Linked DNA regions of Homo sapiens: region 2 is linked to region 1. A link means that fine-mapping ties the variant in region 1 to the expression of a gene that starts in the linked region. Tissue or cell type: testis. Region 1 holds a variant in brackets; the other region holds the start of a gene. All regions are shown on one strand. Distances are from middle to middle. Region 1 has its middle 22 kb from the start of GORASP2. Region 2 holds the start of GORASP2 (golgi reassembly stacking protein 2).

The links.
Region 2: GORASP2 starts here. The variant in region 1 is fine-mapped to the expression of GORASP2 in testis (GTEx, PIP 0.95).

The regions. Positions count from the first base shown.
Region 1 is chr2:170,898,821-170,915,786 of GRCh38, forward strand. No RefSeq gene overlaps it. Among named protein-coding and RNA genes, the nearest start is that of GORASP2, 22 kb to the right of the region's middle. The variant A/G (reference allele first, on the strand shown) is at 7,552.
Region 2 is chr2:170,920,042-170,933,877 of GRCh38, forward strand. GORASP2 (golgi reassembly stacking protein 2) reads left to right here and starts at 9,212. Exons shown (of 10, transcript NM_015530.5): 1 at 9,212-9,362. The coding sequence starts at 9,300. RefSeq lists a silencer at 8,991-9,690.

The DNA of each region.
Region 1 (16,966 bases):
TCCTCCCAGCCACTGAGGCAGCTCCCAACCTGACATTTCCAGACTCGATTTGCATTTGCTTCAAGAAATTCCCACTGAAAAACCCTCCGCAAACTGAATTCACAAACACCTCCTGCCAACTTAGTGTTCTAGTCCTCCATACCCATAATTCCCAACTCTGATTTTTGTTACTAAAGGATAGAAAGTTTGGTGTCCTACTTAGGCTGTGATGACTGACTCTCTTGGGTTCCCAGACTTCATGGAAGACTTTGCCATGAATTCTTACCAACATTTTGACACAATAATTTTAGAACTTTGGAAGAAGGTCTGATTTTAGCCTAGAGAAATCATTTTTAAGGTTGGTACTTGTCCTTCAATTAAATTTGTAAACCCCATCCTATGTCTTCTTTGACTCAATAGTACATCACTTTCACCTATGGGCTGGTTTCTTGTATCTTGAAGATGAGGAAATCCTGTTCATCAGCAAGTGACACTTTCCCCACTTTGCACTTCCCACTCATCAAATGGCTGTTAAGTTGTCAGGGTCCTATCACAAAGAGCAGCTCATTAACTTTAATTATTTTTGAAATTCATTGGTTCAAAATGAAGCTAGTAGGTGCCAGAGGTTCATAGCTACAGATATTAATTAATAAGTGGAAGCTCTCATTAGCTGACACTTTTTTTTTTTTTTTGAGACACGGTCTCACTCTGTCACCTAGGCTGGAGTGCAGTGGTGTAATCTCAGCTCACTGCAGCCTTGACCTCCCAGGCTCAAGCAATCCACCTCAGTCTCTCTAGTAGTTGGAACTACAGCTGTGTGCCACCACACTCAGGTAATGTTTTTTTAGAGATGAAGTTTCACTGTTGCCCAGGCTGGTCTTGAACTCCCAAAGTGCTAGGATTACAGGTGTGAGCCACTTCGCCTGGCTGAGCTGATACTTTTTGCCATCTTTTTTTTCCTGCCATTTAATCAGTTCAGAGTGGGTCTAAGACTCTTCAAACTGGAAGCAGAGGAAAGGTAAGAGCTAAGTGTCCAAGACACAAAAAATCCAAGTGTCAGGCCCCAGACAAGAGCAGAGAATTTCCCTGGCTCCTGTTCCATCATTTTCCCAACTAAATCACTATTGCGTCTGGATTTAGAAAACCCACAGATCAGTTGGTTTCCAGATCACCTCCAGCTGATGTTTATGTTTAGTTAATTCCAGATAGAAGGTGACACTTGTGAGCTTTGCTAGAATCCCTCTGCATGGTAACCTGTTAAAATTATATTTAATGGCTCATGGCAGTCCTCGCTCCGTGAAGATGTGGCATTTTGCTGGTATTCTTTAAACATCAAACCAGTTATAATCTGTTGTAGATTTCATTACTAAGTCCATGCTTGTTCCAATTTATCTTTTTGAAAGTAACTTCCTGCTATGGAAAAGTAGTGTCCTCCAACACTGCTAGAGGCAGTATTAATTAGTATAATCTTTCTTTGTAAATTTCTCCTTCTGCTTTTTTTTGGTACAATCTTTCTTGAAAGCAAGATAGCTGTAAGTTTCAGATGCCATAAAATATACATATCATTTGATCAAAATTTCCACAAGTATTTTGTCCAAGGAAATTATAAGAAATGCAGACAAACACTTATCAACAAAGATATTCATTACAACATTAATTACAGTACTGAAACATTAGTAAAACCTAAACATCCTGAATAGGCCAATTTGTTAAATAAATTCAAGTACATCCATCGGAATATAATATAACCAGTGGAAGTGATATCATATAATATTTGACACAGGAACACATATACTCTATAAAATGAAATCAAAGAACCATATTGCAAAACTATATATAATATTATTCTAATTTTATGTCTTTTTTTAAAATTATTTTAGAGACAGGGGTCTTGCTATATTGCCCAGGCTGGCTTCAAAGTCATGGGCTCACGTAATCCTCCTGCCTCAGCCATCTTAATAGGCAAAACTATAGGCACATCACACTGTGCCCAGCCTAATTTTCAATATTTCTATATGTTTATAACAGTTATGAGTGGTAGAGTTACAGTAAATTTTATTTTCATTTATTTTTCTGTGTTTTTCCAATTTTCTGCATTGAACAACTACCCTTCTTTTAACTACCCCTTTTTAATCTTTTAAAGGAACATTACTTTTTTTTTTTTTTTTTTTTTTGAGACGGAGTCTTGCTCTGTCACCCAGCCTGGAGTGCAGTGGCGCGATCTCGGCTCACTGCAAGCTCTGCCTCCCGGGTTCACGCCATTCTCCTGCCTCAGCCTCCCGAGTAGCTGGGACTACAGGCGCCCACCACCATGCCCGGCTAATTTTTTGTATTTTTAGTAGAGACGGGGTTTCATTCTGTTAGCCAAGATGGTCTCGATCTCCTGACCTCGTGCTCCGCCCGCCTTGGCCTCCCAAAGTGCTGGGATTACAGGCGTGAGCCCCCGCGCCCTGCCCATTACATGATTTTTAAAAGAAAAGAAAGTGGGCTGGGCACAGTGACTCACGCCTGTAATCCCAGCAATTTGGGAGGCTGAGGAGGGCAGATCGCTTGGGCCGAGAAGTTCGAGACCACCTGGACAACATGGTGAAGAGACGGGGGTCTCTACAAAAACTACAAAAATTAGCTGGTAGCGCGCACCTGTAGTCCCAGCTACTCAGGAGGCTGAGGTGGGAGGATCACCTGAGCCTGGGGAGGTCAAGGCTGCAGTGAGCCATGATTGTGTCACTGCACTCCAGCCTGAGTGACAGAATGAGACCTTGTCCCAAAACAACAACAAAAAAAACAAGCAAGCAACCTTCTTGATGCATAGCACAATGGTATGCCTTAAGTCATACAGAGTATATAAAAATCCAGTCTCTAAATTCAAAGCTTACAAAAATTAAACGTTTATAAAAATCAAGCTCTTATTCTTTCTAAAAGTTCAGGAAGGAAGGAGACTGATTTGTTGAGGGCTAGAACCTTTTGTATATATCATGCCACTTATCATCACAATAGTGCTGTAAGGTGGCTACTATTAACCTTATCCTGTGGATGAAGACACAAAATAAGAGAACTTTAAGTAGTTTAACTCATCTCAGTTCAAACAACAATTAAATGAGAGGATCAGAATTCAGAGTCAAGTTTCATTCATTTGTTCATTCATTAATTTATGCACACTGAGTTTTGAGAATAAATAAATGCTTCTGGCAACTGAAAACAGAGTCTAATATAACGAACATAGACAATAATATGGAAAATATCCATAAATTCACCTTCCAGCTTAAGAAATAAATATTTCAGATACAGAAGATGCCCCTGTGTACTTATTCCCAATTTCATTCTCTCTCTTCCAACCAGCAGTAACCAGTATCTTGAACATGGGGTTTATTATTCCCGTGGAAGTTTTTATTCCTTTGCTACATGTTTGTATCCATAAACTATATTCAATCAACCACTGTCCAATCAGGAAAATGGAAACCACTCTACGCATTTCACAGAAAGGAGATGTAATACTGATAATTGGTTATAAAGGTATAGAAAGGAAGGGCTGAATATGCAAATGGAATAAGGGGTTATGTTCAATTTCACCCATTTATCCGCCAGATCAATTCTCTACCTTTTTTGTGCTCAGAAAAGTGGGTGATGCAGACTGCCTCACTGGACTCCCTTTATCTCTGGCTTCTGGTTGGCTTTGGCCAATGGGAAGCACTGGTAAAAGGTGAAGAGGAAGAGAAGGAGATCAGAATACCTGTTCACTTGGCTTCTTCCCTGTTGGGTTGCTACAGGTTGGCACTCCCACTGCCAAAATAGCCACTGATACTACTGAAATGCTCCTCTTCAGTCACCTACTATTGCTGCTGCTGCCATTGCTAGGAGCACTGCCAGGAACAGAAAGAAAAATGGCATCACCCTTTCTTCTGTTTTCTAATCTCCTGCTACTGCCTTGCATTGGCAAAACCTAATCAGAATCCAACTAGCAAGGAAGCCTGCAACAGGTATGTAGCTCACAGGTTTTTAGCCTCTTGCAATACAGGAGTGGAAGCACATAACCAATACAAGTGCCTAGTACTGTTTGCATTTTTTTTTTTTTGAGACAGGGACTCATTCTGCTGTCCAACCTGGAGTGCAGTGGTGCAATCATGGCTCAGTGCAGCCTAAACCTCCTGGACTCAAGCAATCCTCCCACTTCAGTCTTGTGAGAAGCTGGGACTACAGGCATATGTTACAATGCCTGGCTAATTTTTTTAAAATTGTTTTTTGTAGAGATGGGGTCTCACAATGTTGCCCAGGCTGGTCTCAAGATCCTGGCCTCAAGCAATCCTCCTGCCTCGGCCTCTCAAAGTGCTGGGATTACAGGTGTGAGCTCACTTGGCCTTGTTTGCTTTTTTTTTTTTTTTTTTTTTTTTTTTTTTTTTTTTTTGAGATGGAATCTTGGTTTGTTACCCAGGCTGGAGTGCAGTGGCATGATCTCGGCTCACTGCAACCTCTGCCTCCCAGGTTCAAGCGATTCTCCTGCCTCAGCCTCCCGAGTAGCTGGGATTACAGGCACAGCCACCACGTCCAGCTAATTTTTGTATTTCTGGCAGAGATGGGGTTTCACCATGTTGCCCAAGCTGGTCTGGAACTCCTGACCTCAAGTGATCCATCCACCTTGGCCTCCCAAAGTGCTGAGATTACAGGCATGAGCCAACTCACCCAGCCTTATTTGCATTTTTAAAACTTTACATAGATTGTATGCTGTACATATCCTTGCTTTTTAAACTTTATACCTTTGAGATCTATTCATGTTGATACATGTGGCTCTAGTTTTTCCATTTTAACTGCAATATTGTATTCAATAATGATATTTCTTCAAGGGAACTAGTGAAGAGAGAAACACTGAAGCACTGGCATTGGAACAAAAGAGGTATTAAAGTTACTAGATGGCAAACCACAAAAAGTAGGTAAAACTGGATTAAAGGAAAATGTTCCTAAAAGCTGTTCCTTTTTTACCTTAGGCATGTTGAGTAAAAATAAATAAATAGAGAAATAAATAAATAAGCCGTCTCTTCTTTCATTCAACATATAATAGATTCATTGAGCTTCTACCATGTCCTAAGCATTGTGCTTGACACAAAGGACAGAATATAGAATACAATCTGGTCCCTGCTCTCCAGTTTCGTCAAGGTCACAAGTACTATGATAGAAGCATGACTAGGATACTATGAAGGCACAGAACTTGATAGAAAAAAAGAGACTACAGAGTCTCTTTAAACTTAAAATTTTCTAAATACATAAAATGTTTTACAAATGGAATCCAGCAGTATAGTGAAAAATAATATGACCAAAAAGGGCTTATTTCAAGAATGCCAATGGTTCAATATTTTTTAAAACTTATAAATACCACAGGTTAAATGGGAAAAGTCACGAATTAAGGGGGAATATGTCAAAAAGTCACTTGAAAAATTTCAGCAGCTTTTCCTAATAAAAACTTGAAGTAAAACAGGGTTAACAGGAAACCATCTTAACATGAAAAAGACTAGTTAGCAAAAAACAAACAAACAAAACACAAAACCAAGAGCAAACATCATATTAAATAATGAATTAACGGCCAGGAGTAGTGGCTCATGCCTGTAATCCCAACACTTTGGAAGGCTAAGGTGGGAGGATTGCTTGAGCCCAGGAGTTTGAGACCAGCCTGGGCAACATTATGAGACCCTGTCTCTCAACATTATGAGACCCTGTCTCTACCGAAAAAAAAAAAAAATTAGCTGGGTGTGGTGGCGCATGCCTGTAGTCCCAACTACGTGAGAGGCTGAGATGAGAGGATCGCGTCAACTTGGGAGGTTGAGAATGCAGTGAACTGTAATTGAGCTGCTGCTGCACTCCAGCCTGAGCAACAGAACAAGACCCTGTCAAAAAAAAAAAAGAATTATTAAATATATTTCCATTAAGTTAAGAGTAAGATAATACTTGTAATTGTCTTGGTTTGGAAGTCAGATAATACAGCAAAATTTTTAAAAGGAACTAAAAATTAGGCATTTTAACAAGTATCAAATTATGTACTATAATATTGCTATCAAAATAGAAGAATGTTCATGATATATTATTAAATGAAAGGAAGGGAAGCACATCACAGAGTCCTGTATATAATACGACCCTGTTTTTGTGTGGGGGGTGGGGGCTTGGGCAAAAAGAAAACCGGTGTGTGCATAGGTGTGTATCCATTTATATTTAGCCAAAGAAGTGAAACTATATACACCACACTCTTAATATTGGTTATTTCTGAAGAGTAGAATTTGAGTATGGGAACTGTGAATTTTTTATCATTTTAATTATACATTATAATAATCATTTGTATTATTTGCCTTTCTATTATTTAAAAATGGTCTGTATCCTTTTATAATCTAAAAATCTAATAGACCGGATGCGGTAGCTCATGCCTGTAATCTCAGCACTTTGGGAGGCCAAGGCAACCAGATCACTTGAGGTCAGGAGTTCGAGACCAGCCTGACCAACATGGCAAAACGCTGTCTGTACTGAAAATAACAAAAATTAGCTGGGCATGGTGGTGCACGCCTGTAGCCCTAGCTACTCGGGAGACTGAGGCACGAGGATTGCTTGAGCCTTAGAGGTGGAGATTGTAGTGAGCTGAGATCGCACCACTGCACTCCAGTCTGGGTGATAGAGTGAGAGCTTGTCTCAAATAAATAAATAAATCGAATAAAGTAAAAAGAATTTTTAATCAGGTGGGAGGTAGTCAAAGACGGCTTCCTGGAGTTCACTGAATAAAGAACCAGTAAAAAGGGTGTTCTCTGCAGAAAACAGTAAGAGCAAAGGCATGAGACTAGATAAAGTTTTCAGGAAATCACAAAAACCTGAGGACAACTCAAGCAAATATGGTATATGTGTCCCTCATTACTAAATTCTGGTATCTCTGGGTTTATAAGGTGGTTCTAACCAAAGAGTAGCTAACAAATTCGGCACCCTGTTGGGACTTTAGAGGCTGTAGACACACCCCTTTCATCCTCATAGAGTTCAGAACCAACTCTGTCCTTTGAAGGATAAGACATAGGGTTTAGGCAGATGGTGACTTTTGTCATGCCATTATGATGGAGAAAGCAATTCAAGTATATGGTTTAAATGTGCAGCCACAGTGTGCTTCCTAATCCTTCTTCATCCCAGCATTTACTTTTCCACTCAGTCATAGGAGGACAGCTGGACACTGCAGAGCCAGCACGGGATGTTTACCACAGAGTGAACAACAAACCTGAAAGCCTGATCTCTGCTGGTCTCACCCAGCAGGGAGAGCCAAGAGGACTGGAACCGAGCATGCTCCGTTCCTTCCCCAGACACTTCAGTGAGATCCGCCACTCCTCTCCCCAGACAGAGAAGCTGAAGGGATACTCCCTAACTTATTTTTTGTGGCAAGCGTGTGGAAATCACCTCCCTGTAGAAGCTTGAGGAGGACAAATAAGTGTTTGTCCTAATACTCTCCAGCTTTACGTTCTCACATGACCAATTGGGCATAACATTTAAGTCCATAGTCAAACAACACACTTTTCACTTTTTTTTATAACGTCCTTTGATGTGCAAAACTTTTTCATTTTG[A/G]CAAAGTGCAATTTATCTATTTTTTTTTGTTGCCTGTGCTTTTGGTGTCATATCTAAGAATCTATTTCCAAATCCAAAGTCATGAAGTTTTCCCCATATGTTTTTTTCTAAGAGCTTTTATGTTTTTAACTCTTATACTTAGGTTATTAATCTATTTTGAGTTGTCCCAGTGGGGCAAGACTCCTTGCAGTGTTTTTAGATTTTAATTCATTTCCTCTGCTGATTTGAGAAGCATGAACCAATGAATGCCAGGCCCATACCACCTATCAAGCATCATGAATGAGGGCTAGGGAGAGATGACAGGAGAACTCCTTCAATTTGAGACCCTTGTGAACAGATGAGGCCAGGGGGAAATAGAGGCTGTCCTCAAAAGCAATGTGGTAATGCAAAGACCCTGACACATGGAATCAAATGCTATGGATGGAAAATTTAGAACAAATTAGTACCATGACAAGAGCTTCCTTCAATCTCTTATAAATCATTTCCCCCAAAGAAATGAAACGTGGTTACTAGCTTCAAGGAGGACCCTTTGAGATTGGTATTGTTTGAAACAAAAATATCTCATTTATCCATTACTAATGTTTTTTCTTTTCAATTCAGTCTATTACTCTTAACAATATACCTTAGGTAATTTATCTCTAGAACTCACTTATTATTTCCTGCCCCATACCTAGCCTTGACCATGAAAAGGATTTTTTTTCTGAGTAACAAAATAATTTCAGATTTCAAATAAGGTAATGATAATCTTATGGAAGGTCTGAGCTCAACTATTTGCCAGAAATCTTTTTTCTTGGTATGAAATACTACTGTCACCTGACCAGAAGGTTTGTTAAAATAGTACTTGAGAATTGTTAGTGTACAGAGAAACCTTTAGGTTGAAAAAAAAAAAAAAAAGAATTGTTAGGGCATTGCCTCCATAAATATTTGGCCTAAAATTTGGATAACTTGTTATTAAATTATTGGCTCTTTGTTAAACAGCTATACCATCACTAGGTGTCATTGTCTAAGAAAAATAGATCAGCATTCATTACCATTCAATTATCTTTGTCTTTAAAAACAAAACACTGGAGCTGGTTGTTCAATTTCCATGTAGTTGTGTGGTTTCGAGTGAGTTTCTTAATCTTGAGTTCTAATTTAATTGCGCTGTGGTCTGAGAGAGTGTTATGATTTCAGTTCTTTTGCATTTGCTGAGAAGTGTTTTACTTTCAATTATGTGATCAATTTTAGAGTAAGCGCCATGTGGTGCCAAAATGGGCAAAGGACATGAACAGACGCTTCTCAAAATAAGACATTTATGCAGCCAACAAACATATGGAAAAAAGCTCAACATCACTGATCATTAGAGAAATGCAAATCAAAACCACAATGAGATACCACATCACACCAGTCAGAATGGCGATTATTAAAAAGTCAAGAAACAACTGATGCTGGCGAGGCTGTGGAGACATAGGAACGCTTTTACACTGTGGGTGGGAATGTAAATGAGTTCAACCATTGTGGAAGTCAGTGTGGTAATTTCTCAAAGACCTAGAACCAGAAATACCATTTGACCCAGCAATCCCATTACTGGGTATATATCCAAAGGAATATAAATCATTCTGTTATAAAGATATGTGCACGTGTATGTTCACTGAAGCACTATTCACAATAGTAAAGAAACGGAATCAACCCAAATGCCCATCAATGATAGACTGGATAAAGAAAATGTGGTAAATATATACCATGGAAATACTATGCAGTCATAAAGAGGAACAAGATCATGTCCTTTGCAGGGACATGGATGGAGCTGGAAGCCATTATCCTCAGCAAATTAACGCAGGAACAGAAAACCAAACACTTCATGTTCTCACTCATAAGCGGGAGCTAAACAATGAGAACACATGGACACAGGGAGGGGAACAACACACACTGGGGCCTGTCTGGAGTGGGGGAAGAGCGGGGAGGGAGAGCATCAGGAAAGATAGCTAAATCATGCAAGGCTTAATACCTAGGTGATGGGTTGATAGGTACAGCCAACCACCATGGCATATGTTTACCTATGTAACAAACCTGCACATCCTGCACATGTACCCTGGAACTTATACTTTTTAAAAAGTAAAAAAAAAAAAACTCTGTAAAGAAAATGGTAATATAAACAGTAAAGAAGCTGTGTTTATATTTACTATCACATTTTTCAATAGAACAAGATTTTTGAAGCCAGGCACAGTGGCTGACACCTGTAATCCCAGCACTTTGGGAGGCTGAGGCAGGTGGATCACTTGAGGCCAGGAGTTCAAGACCAGCCTGGCCAACATGGCGAAACCCCATCTCTACAAAAAATACAAATATTGGCGGGGAATGGTAGTGGGTGGCTGTAGTCCCAGCTAATTGGAAGGCTGAGGAAGAAGGATCACCTGAGCCTGGGGTCCAGGCTACAGTGAGCTGTGATCTCACCACTGCACTCCAGCCTGGGTGACATAGTGGGACCCTGTCTCAAAAAAAAAAAAAATTTTTTTTTGGAAATATGACCCATGAATGACAACTGCATCCCTCACTGATCCCTATTGTTACCACTGTGTATCTAGTTTATTGTTCTGCAAATTGGGGTAGACCTAACTCTAGAAATTTTGCAACAGTTTAAACTCTCTCCATCAGTAGTGCACATAATTTTGCTAACGCTGAGTTTATCACTAAAATGGTAAGCCAAAGCCGGGCACGGTGGCTCATGCCTGTAATCCCAGCACTTTGGGAGGCCGAGGCGGGTGGATCCTGAGGTCAGGAGTTCAAGACTAGCCTGGCCAAGTTGGTGAAACCCCGTCTCTACTAAAAATATTTTAACAAAATTAGCCGGGAGTGGTGGCAAGCGCCTGTAATCCCAGCTACTCAGGAGGCTGAGGCAGAGAATTGCTTGAACCCGGGAGGCAGAGGTCGCAGCAAGCCGAAATCGTGCCACTGCACTCCAGCCTGGGCGACAGAGTGAGATTCCATCAAAAAAAAAAGGTAAGCCAAAAAAAGGTAGTATCTATTTTTAAAAATTTATTGTGATATATATCTATGAAATAAATGTATATCTTTTTCTATTTTATATATATGTAAATTTACCACTTAAATAGTTTTAAGCATACAATTTTGTGGGATTAATTACATTCACAATGTTGTGCAACCCTATCACTATTTCCAAAGCTTTTATCTCATTAAGCAATAACTCTCCATTCTCCCCTCTCCCAAACCTCTCATTTACTTTGTCTCTATAAATTTGTCTATTCTAGATTGTTGATATGAGTGAAATCACCCAATATTTTTTTTGCGTGTCTGGTTTATTTCACTTAGCATAATGTTTTCAAGGCTCATCCATATGTATCCATTCATCTGTTATGATCAATTGGGTTGTTTCCACCTTTTGGCTATTGTGAATAATGCTGCTATGAACATTCATGTACAAGCATCTGTTTGAGTCCCTGTTTTCAAATCCCTTGGATGTATACTCAGGAGTAAAGGTGCTAGGTTATATGGTAATTCTTTTTTTTGAGACAGAGTCTCACTCTGCTGCCCAGGCTGGAGTGCAGTGGTACTATCTCGGCTCACTGCAACCTCTGCCTCCCAGGTTCAAGCAATTCTCTTGCCTCAGCCTTTTGAGTAGCTGGGGAGTTGCCTTTGCTGAGGAGTGTGCGTGCACCACCATGCCTAGCTGATTTTTGTATTTTTAGTAGAGATGGGGTTTCGCCATGTTGGCCAGGCTGGTCTTGAACTCCTGACCTCAGGTGATACACCCGCTTTGGCCTCCCAAAGTGTTGGGATTATAGGCATGAGCCACTGTGCCCAGCCGCAGGGTTATATGGTAATTCTATGCTTAACTTTTTGAGGAACCACTACACTGTGTTCCACAGTGGCTACACCATTCTACATTCCCATCAGCAACTCATGAGAGTTCTAGTTTCTCCATATCTTCAAGAATATTTGCTATTTATCTTTCTTTCTTTTCTTTTTGGCTTTTGGTTTTGGGGTATTTTAAATAATACCCACCCTAACTGGGTGTGAAGTGGTATCTTACTGGGGTTTGATTAGCATTTCCCTAATGACTAATGATGCGGAACACCTTTTCACATGCATTTTGGCCATTTGTTTACCTTCTTTAGAGAACTGTCTGTTTAAATTCTTCGTCTATTTTTTATTGGGTTGTTTGTCTTTTTGTGATTGAGTTGCAGGAGTTCTCTATATATTCTGGATGTTAAACTTTTATCAGATATATTATTTTGTTTTCTCTCTTTTTCTTTTCTTTAAAGACAGAGTCTTGCTCTGTCACCCAGCCTGGAGGGCAGTGGTACAATCATAGCTCATGATAACCTTGGGCTCACTATAACTCTTGGGCTCAAGGGATCTTTCTGCCTCAGCCTCCTAAGTAGCTAGGACTACAGGTGCACACAACCATGATCGGCTAATTTTTAAATCTTTTGTAGGGGTCTTGCTATGTTGCCCAGGCTGGTCTTGAACTCCTGGCCTCAAGTGATCCTCCCATCTCAGCCACCCAAGGTGTTGGGATTACAGACATAAGCCACTGAGCACAGCCCATTTTCTCCTATTTTATAGGTTTTTTCACTTTTTTTATAACGTCCTTTGAGGTGCAAAAGTTTTTCATTTTGACAAAGTGCAATTTATTTTTTTTGTTGCCTGTGCTTTTGGTGTCATATCTAAGAATCTATTTCCAAATCCAAAGTCATGAAGGTTTCCCCATATGTTTTTTTCTAAGAGCTTTATGGTTTTAACTCTTATACTTAGGTTATTAATCTATTTTGAGTTAATTTTCATATATAGAGTGTGGTAAGAATCCAACTTCATTCTTTTGCATGTAGTTATCCAGTTGTCCCAGCACAATTTGTTGAAGACTATTCCTTTGCCATTGAATGAACTTGGCATCCTTATCAAAAATCAACTGGCTATAGATGTATGGGTTTTTTTAGGGAGTCTCAATTATATTCCATTGGTTTATATGTCTATCCTTATGTTAGTATCACATTGTTTGATTAATGTATTTTTGTAGTAAGTTTTGAAATCAAGAAGTATGAGTCCTCTGATTTTGTTCTCTCTCCGTCTCTGTTTTTGAGACAAGGTCTCACTCTGTCACCTATGCTGGAGTGCAATGATACAATCATGGCTCACTGAAGCTTTGACCCTCTCGAATAGCTGAGACTATAGGCATGTGCCACCATGCCTGGCTAATTTTTTAATTTTTTTTGTAGAGATGAGGTCTCATTATGTTGCTCAGGCTGGTCTTGAACTCCCAGGTTTACACAATCGTCTACCTCAGCCTCCCAAAGTACTGGGATTATAGGCATAAACCACTGCTCCCAGCATTTTTTCTCAAGAATTATTTGGCTATTGTGGGAGGTGGGATATGCAATGCATACGAATTGAATATCAGCTTTTCCATTTCTGCAATAAAAGGTTGTTGGAATTTTGATAGGTATTGCAGTGAATCTTTAGATTGCTTTGAGTAGTGTCGCTATCTTAACAATATTGTCTTCCAAGCTATGAACATGGTATTTTTTTCATTTAATTAGGTCTCCTTTAATTTCCTTCAGCAATATTTTATAGTTTTCACTATAGGTAGAACCTATTTTAATTGACTTTAAAAATTTTTTTCTGGAGATACTTGGGTTTTTTCATATTTCTATTGGGTATCTGATTTCATCTTCTATAATTACTTGTTTGAATTATTTGCCCTACTGCCTCTTGAGATGGCATCTTTTCCTTATTAATTTGCCTTCCCAGTCTTTCTCCTTCAAGTCATTTATTGTTTTGTCATCTGTGGGTTTCATATATGTATTGAGAATATTTCCTCCCATTCTGTGACTTTCCATTTTTAACAATTCTCTTTTGAAGAGCAAAAGCATTAAATTTTGGTAAGTCCAATTTACTGTGTTTTTGAAACCTATTTATAATTCTGTGCCAAATCCAAATTGCTAAGATTTCTTCTATTTTTTTTTCTTGCAGTTTTATAATGTTTGTTTTTACACTTGGGTAAGAAAATGGTCTAGGACCCATTTCAAGTTAATTTTTATATGGTGTGGGAAGAGTTGAGGTTTATATTTTGCATTTGCCTATCCAATTGTTCCAGCATGATTTGTAGGGAAAAAAAAATATTTCTTTTTTTTTTTTTAGATGGATTATCTCTGTCTCCCAGGCTAAAGTGCAATGGTGCAATCTCGGCTCACTGCAACCTCTGCCTCCTGGGTTCAAGCAATTCTTCTGCCTCAGCCTCCTGAAAAGCTGGGACTACAGGCACCCGCCACCATGCCCGGCTAATTTTTGTATTTTTAGTAGAGACGGGGTTTCACCATATTGGCCAGGCTGGTCTCGAACTCCTGACCTTGTGATCCGCCCACCTCGGCCTCCCAAAGTGCTGGGATTACAGGTGTGAGCCACCACACCCAGCCTGGAAAAAACATTTCTTTCCATCTAATCGCTTTGGTAACTTCATGCCATAGCTGAAAGAAAGGCACTAAGGTCACCCTTCCCCAAACAGGTTGATGTCCAGCCTGACAACATCTCTGTAGACATTATCTTAAATGCTCAAAGAGAAGTCCTAGGCACAGTTCCACTGACATGGTACCAGTGTGCCCTACTGTGTCCTGATCAGCCTCAAGGAGGTAGGGCCTGAGATGATCAGGTCAATTCCATTCTTTACCACCAGCTAAATAATTTTCCCTTCCTTAGTTCATTCTTTTTCTCCCTTTCTCATTCACTCTATCCCCAACATTGCCCTCATTTTCCCCTAGGTGCTATGTGGCTGCACTGTGAACATTTGTACCATGGATGGTCAAGCGATCCCTTGCATGCAATGATGGCATGAAAAGACTCCATAGGGAAGAGCTTCTTTTCCCCAGGATACCCACCCAATGGGAAAACCTCACTGTGGAGTTTAGTTTACTTCCAGACAGATTAACACTAAATAGACAACAAAGCTGCTATAAACAGTCATATATAGGTTTTTGTATGAACATTTTGGATGGACATTTATTTTCTGTAAATATCTAGGAGTGAGATCACTGGATCATATGTTAAGTGCTTGTTTAACTTCAAAAGAAACTGCCAAACTGTCCTCCAATGTGGCTGTACCATTTTGCATTTCCACCAGCAATGTTTGCGCGTTCTAGGTGCTCTGCATCCTTGCTAGTGCTTAGTATTGTCAGCTTTTTAATTTAATTTTATTTTTTGAGACATGGTCTCCTGTCACCCAAGCTGGAGTGCAGTGGCACCACCATACCCAGCTAATTTTTTTTTTTCGTATTTTTAGTACAGATGGAGCTTCACCATGTTGGCCAGGCTGGTCTCGAACTCCTGGCCTATACAGTGATCTGCTTGCCTCTGCCTCCCAAAGTGCTGGGATTACAGGCATGAGCCACCACACCTGGCCATGATTACTGATATTTTTTAAATTGGTTGATTTCATAAGAGTACTGTAAGTTTCTAGATCTCTTGAAAAATCAAATTTGACAACACTAGACTCCAATTCCTTAACGTCCTCAATCAGGTGGAGATTAGCAGTAGCTAGCCCTTTTAGGAGGGGCTTGAGAATTCCTATTTCCCACGGCCCCCACCACTCCCACATACTCAGCCCAACTTAATTCCCTCCGTGGACATACGAGTTTGTGACTCCTGGTTATGAAGCCATTCTCACAAGATTAGCAAGAATCCTGAACAGAAATGTACTTTTAATTGTTAGAGACTGCACTTTGACCCACTTTTTAAAAACCTAAATAACACTAGATACTAATCATTTGCATCCCCATTGGTCCTAGAGACAGGATTCCTGATGTTAGAATCAGGAGGCTTTTGTTTAAGAATTACTTAAGATGTACCTCAGATTCTGAATTCTAGTGACCAGCTGACACCAAGTTTAAAGATCCCCACAGAGGAACCAAATCAGGATGAGAATACAGGTTCTTCACCTCCCTGTCCCATGACTTCACCCTGCACTTTTTGATCAGTCAATGATCTCCACACTCCAGCCCACTCCAAAATCCTAGCCCCAAAATTCCTTGAGGAGATGAATTCGAGGTTTCCTCCAGTCTCTTTATTTGGCAGTCCTACCGCGTCCGCAATTGGTGGGTTCTTGGTCTCGCTGACTTCAAGAATAAAGCCACAGACCCACGTGGTGAGTGTTACAGTTTTTAAACATGTTGTGTCGGGAGTTTGTTCCTTCAGATGTTCAGATAGGTCCGGAGTTTATTCCTTCTGGTGGGTGCGCAGTCTCGCTGCCTTCAGGAGTGAAGCTGCAGACCTTCGCGGTGAGTGTTAGAGCTCTTAAAGGCAGCGCGTCTGGAGTTATTCATTTCTCCCAGTGGGTTGGTGGGTTGGTGGTCTCACTGGCTTCAGGAGCGAGGCTGCAAACCTTCGCGGTGAGTGTTACAGCTCATAAAGGCAGCACGGACCCAAAGAGTGAGCAACAGCAAGATTTATTGCAAAGAGCAAAAAAAAAAACCAACCCTCTACAGCATTCAATGGGACGCTAGCGGGTTGCCCAGCCGGCCTGGGCAGCCGGCTTTTATTCCCTTATCTGACCCCACCCACATCCTGCTGATTGGTCCATTTTACAGAGAGCTGATTGACCCATTTTACAGACAGCTGATTGGTCCGTTTTGACAGGGTGATGATTGGTGCGTTTACAAACCTTGAGCTAGACACAGAGTGCTGATTGGTGCCTTTACAATCCTTTAGCTAGACACAAAAGTTATCCAAGTCCCCACTAGATTAGCTAGACACAGAGCACTGATTGGTGTGTTTACAAACCTTGAGCTAGACACAGGTTGCTGACTGGTGCATTTACAAACCTTGAGCTAGACACAAAGTGCTGATTGGTGCATTTACAAACCCTTAGCTAGACATAAAAGTTCTCTGGAGTCCCCACCCAACTCAGGAGCCCTGCTGGCTTCACCTAGTGGATCCCGCGCCAAGCCAGCACCATGGGCGGTGCTGCCTGCCAGTCCTGCACTGGGAGCCGCACTCCTCAGCCCAAGCACACTCCTCAGCCCTTGGGTGGTCGATGGGACTGGGCGCTGCAGAGCAGGGGGCGGTGCCCATCGGGGAGGCTCAGGTGGTGCCAGAGGCCACCATGGGCAGTGGGGGATGGGTAATTGGGCATGGTGGGCTGCAGGTCATGAGCCCTGCCCTGCGGGGAGGCAGCTAAGGCTCAGCAAGAATTCAAGCGGGGCGGGCAAGCCGGTAGTGTGGGGGCGGGGGGGACCCAGCACACTCTCCACAGCTGCTGGCCTGGGTGCTAAGCCCCTCACTGCCCGGGGTTGGGTCGCTCCGAGTGTGGGGACTGCCGAGCCTGCGCCCATCTGGAACTGCGTGCAGCCCCATTCCTGCCCACGCCTCTCCCTCCACACCTCCCCGCAAGCAGAGGGAGCTGACTTCAGCCTTGACCAGCCCAGAG
Region 2 (13,836 bases), 20 kb after region 1:
CAATTCAATGGAGGAAGGATTGTCTTTTCAGCACATGGTGCTGGGAAAACTGGATATCCATCTGTGAAAGTAATCCACCTAAACACATATCTCACACCTATACAAAAATTAAGTCAACATGGATCATAGGCCTATAAATAAAATGTAAAACTGTAAAACTTCTAGAAGAAAACTTAGAAGAAAATCTGCATGGCCTTTGGTTTGGTGATAAGTTTTCAGATATAAAACCAAAAGCACATTCCATGGAAAATATTGGTAAGTTGGACTTCATCAAAATTTAAAGCTTTTGCCCTGTGATTTACACTAAGAGAATGAAAAAATAAGCCAAATCTTGGTTTCTAAATACCATTCTCCATTCTAAGGAATTCAGGGTGCCTTAAAGAAATGGCTAACTCTAGGGCTAGAGCAAGAAAAAATACAAGATGAACCTGAGCATCCTATAGTGCCAGAAAGTACAGGCGTGCTCAAAATACAAAAGGATAATTCCACAACAATGTGAATGTATTTAATACCGCTTAACTGTACATGTAGAAATGATTAAGCTATTAAATATTATGTATGTATATTTTACCACAATTTTTTTTTTTTTAAAAAAGAATGGTGGTCTGTCAAAGGGACACAAAAGCCAACCTGAAAAGTGCTTCCCAGGTCAAAGCCAGTACCATTTAGCTACAAAATATTGCATTACCACCAGCAATGAGAGAATCTGTCTCAAACAACAACAACAAAAAACCAACAAAAGACAAAATACATATACATGAACCCGTATTGATATACAAATAAGTGATTTAATTAATTAATAAATGGGAGAGATGAGGCAAAAATCTTTACAGAATTCCAAATTATTTTTGTCATTGTTGTGTTTTTGTTTGTTTTGTTGTTGTTGTTGTTGTTTTGAGACAGAGTCTCGCTGTGCTGCCCAGGCTGGGGTGCAGTGGCGTGATCTCAGCTCACTGCAACCTCCAACTCCCAGGTTCAAGTGATTCTTCTGCCTCAGCCTCCCAAGTAGCTGGGACTACAGGTGTGTGCCACCATGCCCAGCTAATTTTTTTTTTGTATTTTTTAGTAGAGATGGGGTTTCACTATGTTGGCCAGGCTGGATTTGAACTCCAGACCTTGTGATCTGCCCGCCTCAGCCTCCCAAAGTTGGGTTTTTTTTTTTTTTTTTTTTTTTTGGAGATTGGGTCTTACTCTGTTGCAGTTTGGAATGCAATGGCACTGGTCACGGCTCACTGCAGCCTCAGTCTTCCAGGCTCAAGTGATCCTCCCACCTCAGCCTCCTGAGTAGCTGGGACTACAGGTGTGCGCCACCATGCCGGGCTAATTTTTAAATTTTTTATAGAGACAGGGTCTTCCTATGTTGCCCAGGCTGGTTTCAAACTCCTGGCCTCAAGTGATCCTCTCTCCTCAGTCTCCCAAAGTGCTGGGATTACAGGTGTGAGTCACCACACCCCACCCCAAATTATTTGCATAGATAACCCCCTTCAGGAGGTGCAGCTTAATTCCCCTCCCCCAACACACACACACACCCTCTAGGATGCCTAGACACGGTGACTTGCTTCCATAGGAAAAAGGGGAACATAGTAACTTTACTATTAAAATGGACAGCATCTTAATGATCAAGGTTAAAATCACCATTAATAAGTCATGTTAATAGCACATACTCCTGATATGACCTGATAAGCATGGGCATTTCACCTCTGTGGTATTCCTCCCCAAAATCCATAACCTCAGTCTAATCATGACAACAGGCATACCCAACAGGAGGTATATTCTTTAAAATACCTGAGCAGGGCCAGGCGTGATGGCTCACGTTTGTAGTCTCCGTACTTTGGGAGGCCAAGGCAGGTGGATCACTTGAGGTCAGGAGTTTGAGCACAGCCTGACCAACATGGTGAAACCCTGTCTCTACTAAAAATAAAAAAATTAGCTGGGCATGGTGGCGCATGCCTGTAGTCCCACCTACTCAGAGGCTGAGGAAGGAGAATCACTTGAACTCGGGAGGTGGAGGTTGTAGTGAGCTGAGAGATTGAGCCACTGCACTCCAGCCTGGGTGACAGAGAGACACTCCCTCTCAAAAATAAACAAACAAAGAAACAAAACCTGAACAGTGCTCTTTGAAACTCTCAAGGCCATGAAAAACAGGAAAGATTGAGACACAGTCCCAAACCAGAGAAGACAAAGGAGACATGACAACTAACTGTGATGTAGGCCTGGACTGAATCCTGCAACAGAAAAAGAACATTAGTAGAAACACCTGTGAAATTTGAATAAAGTTTAGAGTTTAACTAATAATGTACAAATGTTGGTTTCTTGGTTTTAACAAATATACTGTGGTTGATGTAAGATGTTAACAATAGGAGAAACTGGGTAAAGGGGACCTATGGGAACTCTCTGTACTGGCTGCAACTTTTCCTTAAATCTAAAATTATTCCAGGCTGGGGGTGGTGGCTCATGCCTGTAATCCCAGCACTTAGGGAGGCCAAAGCAGGAGGATCACTTGAGGCCAGGAGTTCGAGACCAGCCTGGGCAAACTAGCAAGATCCCTGTCTCTACCCAAATTTTTATTTAATTGAAAATTATTCCAAAATCAAAATTTTGTCTAGAAAATAGATAAAGACAAAGAAAAATTTGACAATAAAGGTGATGGAAACAACAAAGATATGTAAGAAACTGAGCACAATTTGGGTCTTTGTGGTCAAGTCTGATTGCTAAGAGGATTCCTCCCAGCTCTAGAGATTCTTATTCATTATCTGATTACCCACAAAAAAGCAGAAGTTTATTAAACATTGCTCTAATGGGGAAGTTCTCAAACGTGTGTATCAGAATCACCTGGAAACTAATGACAAATACTGGGACCAGGGTCATCAAAGTAGACTAGCACTGGGACTTCTGTATTTTTACCAGGTTCCCTGGTGAACCTGATACATACCCCAGCTTAAGAACCACTGTTCTAGTGCTTTTCTGTTGACATTGTCACAGGATCCTTAGGGTGTTGCTTTGCCAGCTGGAAACCTCTGTGATCAGCAGCACCTCTGCTTGAGTTTTGCTTGCGCCTGCTGGGCTTGTCCTGCCCACTTGGCCTGGCAGGCTACACTTGCTTTGCTGCCGGCCTGGATCCCACACTTGACAAGGTTGAGGCAGGTGTGGAGCAGTGAGGGGTATGTGAACGAGTGAGCACAGGTTCTTGCCTCTTTGCACAGCCAGGCACACTGGCTGCTGTGGCAGGGTGGGCAGCTCCAGGCACTGGCACAGGCGCTGGCTCCATGTGACGCTGCAGCTGGACCCGATATACCACAAGCGGCTTCCACTGTGGGCACCAGCATCTAGACAAGGGGAGTCCAGTGGCACCTAAAAGCTCAGAGATGCCAGGAACTACAGAGTGCCAAAGAAGGTGTTACAGTGTGTCACAGCCCTTGCTCAGGGAGCCCCAAGGTCTGGGCATCCAGAAGGGCCACAGCTCTTCTCTCCTTCTCATTGCCCGCAGCATGGTGAGTGGGGGGGTGTGTTTTGGGGGGCATGTTTCAGCCCATTTGTGTTACAGCTCTTTCAGTCCTGCTGCCACACTCTGGGCCACAGTTCCTGGGCTAGCCCAGCCCCGCTGCTGCTTCCCATCGCATGGGGCAGCTGTCTGGTGCCAGCAGAGGGTGGGAGAGCTATAGTGTTGCAGCCCTTTAGCTCCCACCATAGCTCAGGGAACCAGCCAGGGAAGTGTTACAGCTCCTTTTGCTCCTGCCATTTGGTGGGTCCCAAGTTCTTGTCCCATATCCAGGAAGAATGAGGTTGCATGGGCAACTGGAGGGTGATCAAGGCAGAGAAGAGCTTTATTGGGCAACCAAACAGCTCTCAGCAGACAGGAGACCCAAACTGGGTAGCTCCTATTCATAGGCAGGTATTCCCAATGAGTATAGAGGAGACCCAAAGTGGGTAGCTCCTATTCATAGGCAGGTATTCCCAACGAGTATAGAGGAGACCCAAAGTGGGTAGCTCCTATCCACAAGCAGGTAATCCTGATGAGTCTCTGAGTCTGGCTGAGTCTGGGGTTTTTATGAGCTCAGAAGGGAGGAAGTACATGCTGATTGGTTCATGGAAAAGGCACCATCCAACTGGCCAAAAGGCATCAAGGAAGTTCTCACTCTGGGTCATGAACTCCACCTGGAACTGGGAGCCAGGCCCCTAGGTTTTAGGCCTGGCCTGAAGATGGGGTTTCACCAGGGACCTGCTTCTTCCCACCTAGGAACCTGTCTGCCTCCTGCCACCATCAACAGGCCATTTGCAGTGCCCAGGCTGTCTGCAGGCCCACGTCAAGCTGCCCTCAGCACCCCAGCCTTCCTCCCATGCTCATTAGTGCCCAAAGTCTGAAGGGGCCGAGGTAGCAGAGGGCTGGTGCCTCAGTACTGCCCCAAGGATACACACACCTGGCTGGGTTGCACCAGTACCTGGGCTCGGCCACAACTGTGTTCCACACCAGAGTGGGTGCTAGGGATAGGGAGAGGCCAGGGAGTGGGAGCAGGCACTTCTGAGCTTGTGGGGGAAGGAGGCTTCCTGAGCCCCTGAGAGCATAGGGATGCCTGGGTCTGGAGCCATAGCTGGGCAGCTGCAGCTGCACCCAGGAGTTGGTGGGCTCCCACCCCACCAACTCGGTAGGGCGTGGGGGCTCCCACTGGGATTCAACTGTTCCTGGCCCCCACGGGCCAACGAGTGCACAGCCCTGGCCACACCTCCCCCGCTACAGCTGGTGTCCTTGCAATGGCCACTCCATACGGATCGCCACTGCCATCAACATGACTACAAACACGACCATTCATACGTTCAACAGCCATTTATTAACTATTATGTGCCAATTCTTTGTCAGTACTAAGAGCACAGTAGTAAACACTCAGGCAAAGTCCATGCCCTAATGGAGCTTACATTCTAATATGCAAATAAATATACACTGATGGAGTGTCTCCTTGTATTTCCCAGTTCCAAGTCCCCAGAGAGAAAACCTGATTGGTGTAGCTGGTCACTACCATCCACTTGTGGGGGGAGAACCTTTTCTAAAGGCCACCTCATTCAGTGTGGGTATTGGCTGCCTGTATATCAGGGTTTCCCTCTAGTCCAGTCAGCTGTGACTGAGAGTGCATGACACATAACATGGTCTCTCATGTGGTCTCATGTGGTTAGCTCCCTCAGCAAAACAGGCTAGGTTAGGAGATTCTCATCTGCCCTATCCAATGTGGTTCTTATTCAAATATGGTAGGAACCAAACTTTCTCAGGGTAGTCTGAAGGCAAAAAGATAAGGCTGCACTAACCAATACCAAGCTGAGTATTAATAATCTAAAAATCCAAAATGCTCCAATTGGAAACTTTTTGAGTACTGATATAACACTCAAAGGAAATGCTCATTGGAGCACTTTGGATTTTGGATTTTTGGATTAGAGATTCTCAACCAGTAATGTTCCAAAATCCAAAATCCAAAACACTTCTGGTCTCAAGCATTTCAGATAAGGGATATTCAATGTGTATGATAAAAATGATCCCTCCATCATGAACAACTTATTTACAAGAACTCAGAATTGGCCAGGTGTGGTGGCTCACACTTTGGGAAGCTGAGGTGGGCAGATTGCTTGAGGCCAGGAGTTTGAGACCAGCCTGGCCAACACCGCAAAACCCCATCTCTACTAAATATATGAAAATTATCTGGGCATGGTGGCGCATGCCTGTAATCCCAGCTTCTTGGGAGGCTGAGACACAAGAATTGCTTGAACCTGGGAGGTGGAGGTTGCAGCAAGTTGAAATTATACCACTGCACTCCAGCCTGGGCAACAGAGAGAGACTCTATTAGAAGGAAAGACGGGAGGGGAGGGGAGGGGAGGTGAAGGGAAGGGAGGGGAAGGAAGAACTCAGAATTAATGTTAATGGAACTCAGAACACACACAAAATTGAGTACCAGATACTTCTTCCAGAAGAATAGATTACTTCCGGTTTTTTAGCCTGTAGACATTTGCTTCTGTTGGACTTCACTTTTCTGCTGCCTCTGATGTTTCAAAATACCAACCTGCCTGCAGCAGATTCTTACTCCAATTGAAGCTGACTTGACAATAATCTACCACGTGTTCCCTCCATCATGTTGTATTATTTATATTAGCTTTGGCAATATCCTTGAGATTTTACTATTTGCCTTCTGTTGGAGCGTATTCTCCAACTAAAAGAGGAAACAACTGGCACCAGGAAAAATGGAGCAATCATTCTCACATTTTTTCAGTCCCAAACCAGGTGGGCCCTGTACCTCACCCTCACACCCTCCACCAACTGCTGCTAAAGAAATAACATGGGTTTTTACCATCACCCTGGGAATTAGGAAAAAAAAGAAAAAAAACCCACAGATTTTGATGAGACACAAATAGTAGCCACAGAGGTCACTTACTAACTGATTCTGAAAAAAAGGCTTTGAAGCTATTCATTACACACATTCAATTCAAATCAATAAACACTACTACCATGTTCCCAATACTCAACCAGGAACTGGGGATCTCAAGATGAAAAAACATGATCGGCTGGGTGTGGTGGCTCACACCTATAATCCCAGCACTTTGGGAGACTGAGGTGGGAGAATCATGTGAGCCCAGGAGTTCGAAACAAGCCTGGCAGCATAATGAGACGTCGTCTCTGCAAAAAATCAAAAAAATTAGCTGGGTGTGGTAGTGCGTGCCTGTAGTCTTAGCTACTCGGGAGGCTGAGGTAGGGATGATTTTGAGCCCAGGAGGTGGAGGCTGCAGTGAGCTGTGATCACACCCCTGCACTGCAGCCTGGGAGACAGAGTGAGACCCATTTCACAAGAAAGAAAGGAAAAAAAAGAAGGAAGGAAGGGAGGGAGCGAGGGAATGAGGGAAAGAGAAAGAGAGAAAGAAAAGAAAGAAAGAAAGAAAGAAAGAGAGAGAGAGAGAGAGAAAGAAAGAGAGAAAGAAAGAAAGAAGAAAAGAGAGAGAAAGGAAGGAAGGAAGGAAGGAAGGAAAAAAAAAATATGATCCTTGCTCTGAATGAATGGACCACGAATGGTGGAAGACAGGCCTGTGATGATGACGATGATGTCATAGAAATGAAGGAACTGTTTCATGGCAAGGAGAGAGTCACACTGACCTTAAGGATAAATAAGTAACATTTGAGATGGGACTTAAAGGATTAGGATTTTTTCAAAGTTAGGATTTTTTAAGTGGAAAATGTAAGGAAGGGCATTCCAGAAGTAGAGAATAGCATGAATAAAATCAAGAAGGTAAGAAAGTAAATGGCTTGTGTGGAGAATAACAAGCAGCCACTCATGAGGCTGAAACATACACTACAGCTCTAAGGAAGGGCTGGACTTGCCCATGGACCACCAACGATCCACAGCCTGGGTTCTATAGGCCGCGGCTGCCATCAGACATATGGGAGACAACTGGTCCAAAAATTTTGACCACTGAACATGGCAGCAGCTTCCATCATAAAGAGGGTTATAATTGCCAAGCAGAATGAGAACATTATAATTAGATCTAGTTCTTCCATTTATTCTCTTGCATTAAATGTATTAATTTGTTGAATTAGCTGCTAGGCATTCTGGTAAATATCAAGAACATAGAGCCAACTCCACTGCAGACCCTGTCCTTGAGGAGCCTAATAACTGGAGATTTCATTTATGGATTTATGGATTTATTAGGCCTCCTAAAAATCTGCTATTCACTTACCGATAGCAAAGAAAATTATTTTTAAATTTTAAATAATATTTTCTTATTACAAAAGCACTTCATGAGCATCATAGAATATGGAACCAGCCAAAACAAAAAATAAAATATCTCTGTCACCACCCAGAGATCACCACTGTAACCCTTGGTTCATATTCTCCTCCCACATCTTCATATGCATACATACATATTAATCTGTATTTTGAGGACATGTTTTTCATTTTGTCTACAGACACATCCCGTCTTGTAACCAGCTTTTAAAAAAGACAATAATTTCCACGTTTCCATGTGAATAACTACTCTTCTAATACTCAGTACATATTCAAATTTCTCCAAATGAACCAAAAATGTCCTTTACGCTTATTTCTCCAAGTTGGCCCCCAACTCAAGCCCTTGCAATGTGTCTCTTGGTTATATTCTTCGGGTTCCTTTTAATCTGGCATAGGCCCTTTCATAGGACTCTGACTCGACAAAGAGAACTGGCCAGCTGTCCTGAAGGAAGGCCCACTTCCTGTATTTGCCTGGTTCCCTGTGGTGTCATTTTACTTGCTCCTCAATTCCCCTTACTTCCTGTAAACATCAAACTCAAGATGCCATAGAGGCAAGTTAACCACCTTGGGCTAGAATACTTCATGGGCGATAGCACGTACTTTACATTGCATCACATAGGAATCCACATAATACCTGGTTGACGCAACATCAGTCCAACTGACCACAAAGCAACTAGGGGTTTCAGAGGGAGTACACGTAAGGGGCAAAAGCAGCAACGGAATACGACAACGGAATAAGCATGAATACGACCTGGCTACCTGAAGGAGGTAGGACGGGGAACCGAGCAGCAGCAGGTGGTGGAATGCCAGGGAAATCCAACCGTGCTTCCCACGCTGGCATCGCTCTGATTATGACCAATCCTCTAATCTTATTCTCACAATTAGGGAGGAAGAAAAAAAAACAAACCCAAACCAAAAAAGAAGTTGGTAGGTGACTCTGTGAGACTACTGTTTTATAAAGGGAGCGTTTCCTTTTATAAAATTTAGCTGAGCAGATGCTAGGCAGCCCACAGGAGGCCACTATTCCCCTCAGCTGTACAGTTTGGGAAAATACCTACACACCCGGAGAACAGAGAGCTTGGTGTGTGTTGAGTTCGCTCCTGTTCATCAGCAGCCCTTTCCCCGCCTCTGGCCACCAGGGGGACCTGCAACCAAGTATGTGTTCTTTCAGGCGAGCGGGAACGCGTCTGCATAAATCTAGTCCAATCCAGGGCCCCGTAGCAAGGCGCCAAAGCTGGGGGAAGCGCATTTCTGTTCTCTCGCGAGCACGACGCGGTGCCTCCCAGTCCTCCTCCGGCCCTCCCTCTCCGCCCTCCCGGCCCGCGAGCGCTCGGGCCCCTTCCAGTGGCTCGCGGCAGGTGGCGCTGTCTGCGGCGTCGCAGCGGCCCGGGCTGCAGCAGAGACGATCTCCCGGCGGGCTGTGCGGCCCGGCTCTCCGGCGGCAGCGAGTGCCACGTCCCAAGTGCTACGCGGAGGATTAGAGCAGGCGGTGCGCTGGGGGCGGGAGCAGCGCGGAGCCCGGCTCGGCCACACCGATCGCCCGCCGCCATGGGCTCCTCGCAAAGCGTCGAGATCCCGGGCGGGGGCACCGAGGGCTACCACGTTCTGCGGGTAAGGGCTCCGACGGCGGCCGGGGAGCTGCGGGCTGGAGGCGGGGCCGGCCGCGGGGAGGCGGAGGCCCCCATGGGCTCCTTCACGGGGCAGCCAGGCCCGATCCCGCGAAGGAGCGGCGGTCGCGGGCGCTGCCTTGGTCGAGGCTGGTTCCGGAGGCCGCTCGCATCCCACCTCCGCGGAGCGCCCTGGGCACGGGGTCCGCGGCTGTAGGAGGACGGGCTGGAGCTGGAGGCGGCTGCCGGCGACTCGGCCAGGGGGCGGCCCTGGGAAGGGGGGACAACCTTGCTCTTTTTCCGCACGGCCTTCTCTCTCCTCCACCCCCCCTCATTTTTAGCTTCCAAAGTTAGGAAGGGCGCGGAGGCAACGTCTCCAAAGTGGTGACTGTGAAGGCAGCCTTTGCGCTTTCCTAGGAGAGGGATCCGGACCCGCAGTCCGGAGGCGGGGCCTGCGGCGGCAGGTGTTAAATCACCTCGGCGCCGGCCGAGTGGCCTGAAAGACCAGCAGGGCAGGAGACGGAAAACCAAATGGCCTGGAAGTAGGTTCGACGGACTTAAACAGACTTGATTTTGACCAGACTTTTCCTTTCCCGTGCCACTCCTGACCCTCCCAAACCTTCTCAAGATTTCCTGGAGTGGGAACTTCCGTTCTGTTCCGATTGCTGAGGGTGTGGTTTAGATTATAAGGTTTAGATCCACAGTGGTAAAGAGGTAGTGCAGAGAAATTTTTTTTAAAAATCGGAGTATATAAAGGAAAACAACCCTAGCTTAACTTCCAGGACGCAGAGAAACATAGTATCTCAAAAGGCGTCAGCTAAGCCCCTACCTATGAACGGCCTGGGCCTGGGTGGTACAAAGCATGTGGTCTTTTCCTCATGGAACCGGGCGACTTTAGAAGTAGCATTGATGGTTGTTTGCTGTGACACCTGTGTGAGTGTTAACATGAACAGTCAACAGAGTGGCCGCAGCGTGTAGCGCCATTTAGGGGTGTAATAGAGTGTCACTCAATATTAGCTCCTCACAGGCAAGAACGTTTTCACTGAAAGTAAGAGAGTGCACTTCCTGGTGCTACCTTCATTTCCTGCCCTGGGTCCCATGTTTTAGGTGAGACACATTCTTAAATTGCCCAGCTGTCTATGTGATAGGGCTGAGACAGATCATCTTTCTGATCTTCCGGATTATCGTGTCTATTGCCTTTCCATTACACTAAAAATCCCTCCTCTGCCATACTCTTAGTAGGAAAGGGTGATTTTTTTTTTCCCCGAAAGGAAAAGGGAGCCTATAAATAAACCGTATTATCTTCCTATCCCCTTCTGCTAACCAAACACCCAAGAGCCACACTGAGAGAGGAAATGGAAGGAGAATTGTCAGTTCCCAAATGTGAGGTGAAAGCTGTGCTTTTCTTTCTATTATCTGGTCTGATTTTGAGTTCTCTACCCTGGGATGTTACCCAGTATTACCAGCTGTTTCTCACAGTGACCGATTGTGGTCATGAATCCTTGGGGATTCATGATATTTTTATAATACATGCACTCAGGGAAACTCAGTAAAACACATTAGTGTTAATAAGCAAAAAAAAAAAAAAAAAGTCGCGTGTTTGAAAGAAAGCCATACACATCAAAAGGATTCCAACTTAGTGACTGCATTCCGACATAAAATGAGTTTGTATTTTCTTTATGTAAGTGCAGTCAAGTGAAACAGCATTCATACATATTCAGTAGTGCAGATGTGTTATTAATCTATACATCTGATTTTTAGAAAAACTAGGGACAACCTTAGTTACCAATCTGCATCTGGAGCATTAATGTTGCACACGATGAAATAATTCTTATTTAGTTAGACTTTTACTAAAGAGAGCTTTAAAATAGTAATGATCTAGTTTAGGAGAATTTTGTGTCTGCCTTCCTAAGACCCTCTGCCCCTGATTCTGTAATTGGTTTTCTTATCTTTGTTTTTAGAGGGAAAAGTGCTGTGTTAAATCTTAACATGTAAAAATGTCTTCCTTTCATTTGTTATTGCCTAAATGGACAGCGATATATTTCATTGTTAGATTACCAAGCTTGTAAACTGGAGTAACTGTGGCAGGAAAATTTTGAATAAAATCACCCATATTCAACAAGTTCTAGAACGATTTAATTAGAAGTTAGTTTTCTTGAATAACCAATTCCCTGGCCAATCTTGTTGTAGTAAAAACTTAATATGATTGACTGGGTTTTGAAATACCAATTATAATAACATTTATATCCACTGCTGTCTTTTGATTTCATGAGTCCCTATAATTCAGATAGATTGAGCTTTCCATTTTTTTCATTATTTTTCAATATCCATCTAAAAATATTTAGGGGACAGCCTTTAAATGGATTCAGAAGTTCTGCTATGAGCAGTGTAGTTCCTTTTTATGTGTTCTGTATGTATGAGTGCATATTTTCAGATTGTGATCATATTGTGTACCCAACTTCTTATCCCCACTCCAGAGTAACCACTGTGGACAGTTTTTTACATAGCCTTTCAGATATATTTTATGCTTATAAAAAAGTCTCTTTGGCCGCGCACAGTGGCTCACACCTGTAATCCCCACTTTGGGAGGCCGAGGTGGGCGGATCACCTGAGGTCAGGAGTTCGAGACCAGCCTGACCAACATGGTGAAACCCCATCTCTATTAAAAATATAAAAAATTAGCCGGGCATGGTAGTGCACACCTGTAATCCCAGCTACTTGGGAGGCTGAGGCAGGAGAATCACTTGAACCTGGGAGGCGGAGGTTGCAGTGAGCTGAGATTGTGCCATTGCACTCTAGCCTAGGCAAAAAGAGTGAGACTTCTTTTCAAAAAAAAAAGAGTCTCTTCTTCTTCCACCCTTCTCTCTTTCTTTTTGTTACCTTGTAATCATGATCCATGCTGTTGCACACCTCAGTCTTCTCAGTTGTTGACCTATCTTGGCAGTCTTTCTGTAGTAGCAAGTGGCCATCTGCTTCATGCTTTCAGTTAGCTCACGGTAGTCTTTTGTACCATAGATTGGTTAAGGAGTACCTCCTGGTGTTGAACATTTGGTTATCTAGTCTTCTGTTATTATAAGTACATATTTACAACCTTAAATCCTACTTTTTGTTTTCCCATAACATACATCCTTTTCCCAGATTACTGTATTGAATTTTAATGGTAGCTGTCTGTAGAAATGTTGATCTTTATTTTAGTAAATAACTACATTGTTTTCTGATCATCAACATGTGTCCATTAGAGAACATTTGGATGTGGTAAAAAAGTACAGCAAAGAACCTGAATTACCTGTAATCCCACCATCTAAAGGCAAATACTGTTGAAGTATTTCTCTTAGTCTCCTTTTTTTCCTGGGCCTAACATCGCCCCTTAGCCATGTTTCACAAAGATTTTGAATAATATGACGTATTCAAGGACTATATGGCCAAAAGTTATCTTAAGAGGTTAACATTACAACCAAAATAGCCAACAGCTGAGAAATTGTTAAACAAATCAGGGCCTAAACACAGATAGAATGCTACACATTCACTCAAAATTGTGTTTCAGACACCCTGTGTGTGTGCAGGTACATTTGAGTGCTTAGGAAAATAAAGCTGAAAGGTAATAAACAAGGTTGTCTAAAAAATTATTAGTGGATGGTGACTTTTTTTTTAACTTTAATATATTTTCTAGGATTTCTGAAGTGATCATTAAATACTTGTATAGTCACCCAAAGTGTAGATATGCAAAATTACTTTTAAAAAAGAAGTGGACTCCTAGTGGAGGATTTAAAAATTTGTGTAGAAGTCTTTTTTTAAAAAATAGCATTTCAGATTTCCTTATATAGTGGGTCAGATTTGTGCTCACTATGAATGGCACTTTTATTTTGGTCCTCCAATCCTAATGTAAGGCAGGAAAAATGTTAGGGCTTCTCAGTTTTTGAAGTTATTGTAAGTTACCCCCTACATGTGAACTATGTTTAATATCAAATTTTTGCCTATATTTTCCATTAATTATCCAGTGAACCCAACAAGACCATTTTCAAAATTAAATTAAACCAAAATATCCAACAGGTGAGAAATTGTTAAACAAATCAGGGCCTAACCACAGATAGAATGCTATACATTCGCTCAAAATTGTGTTTCAAACACCCTGTGTATGTGCAGGTACATTTGAGTGCTCAGGAAAATAAAGCTGAAAGGTAATAAACAAGGTTCTCTAAAAAATTATTAGTGACATAGTTCACAAAATTAAATTTTTGGAGTGACCTCACAGATGCCTATTATAGGATCTGCTTTTAAATTAAAATATTCATATTCTGTTCCACACTTAAAAGAGATGGGGAATAGCTGAGGGCATACTTTCTGGAGCAAGTATTCAGTGTGGAGACTGTGTGGAGTGTGGAGACATGGAAAATGGCATTTTCATTCTTTCTCATGCTTGCTTCTGGGAGAGATTTTGAGGTGATGGATATTTTGAAGGAAGGGTCATTGACATGAAA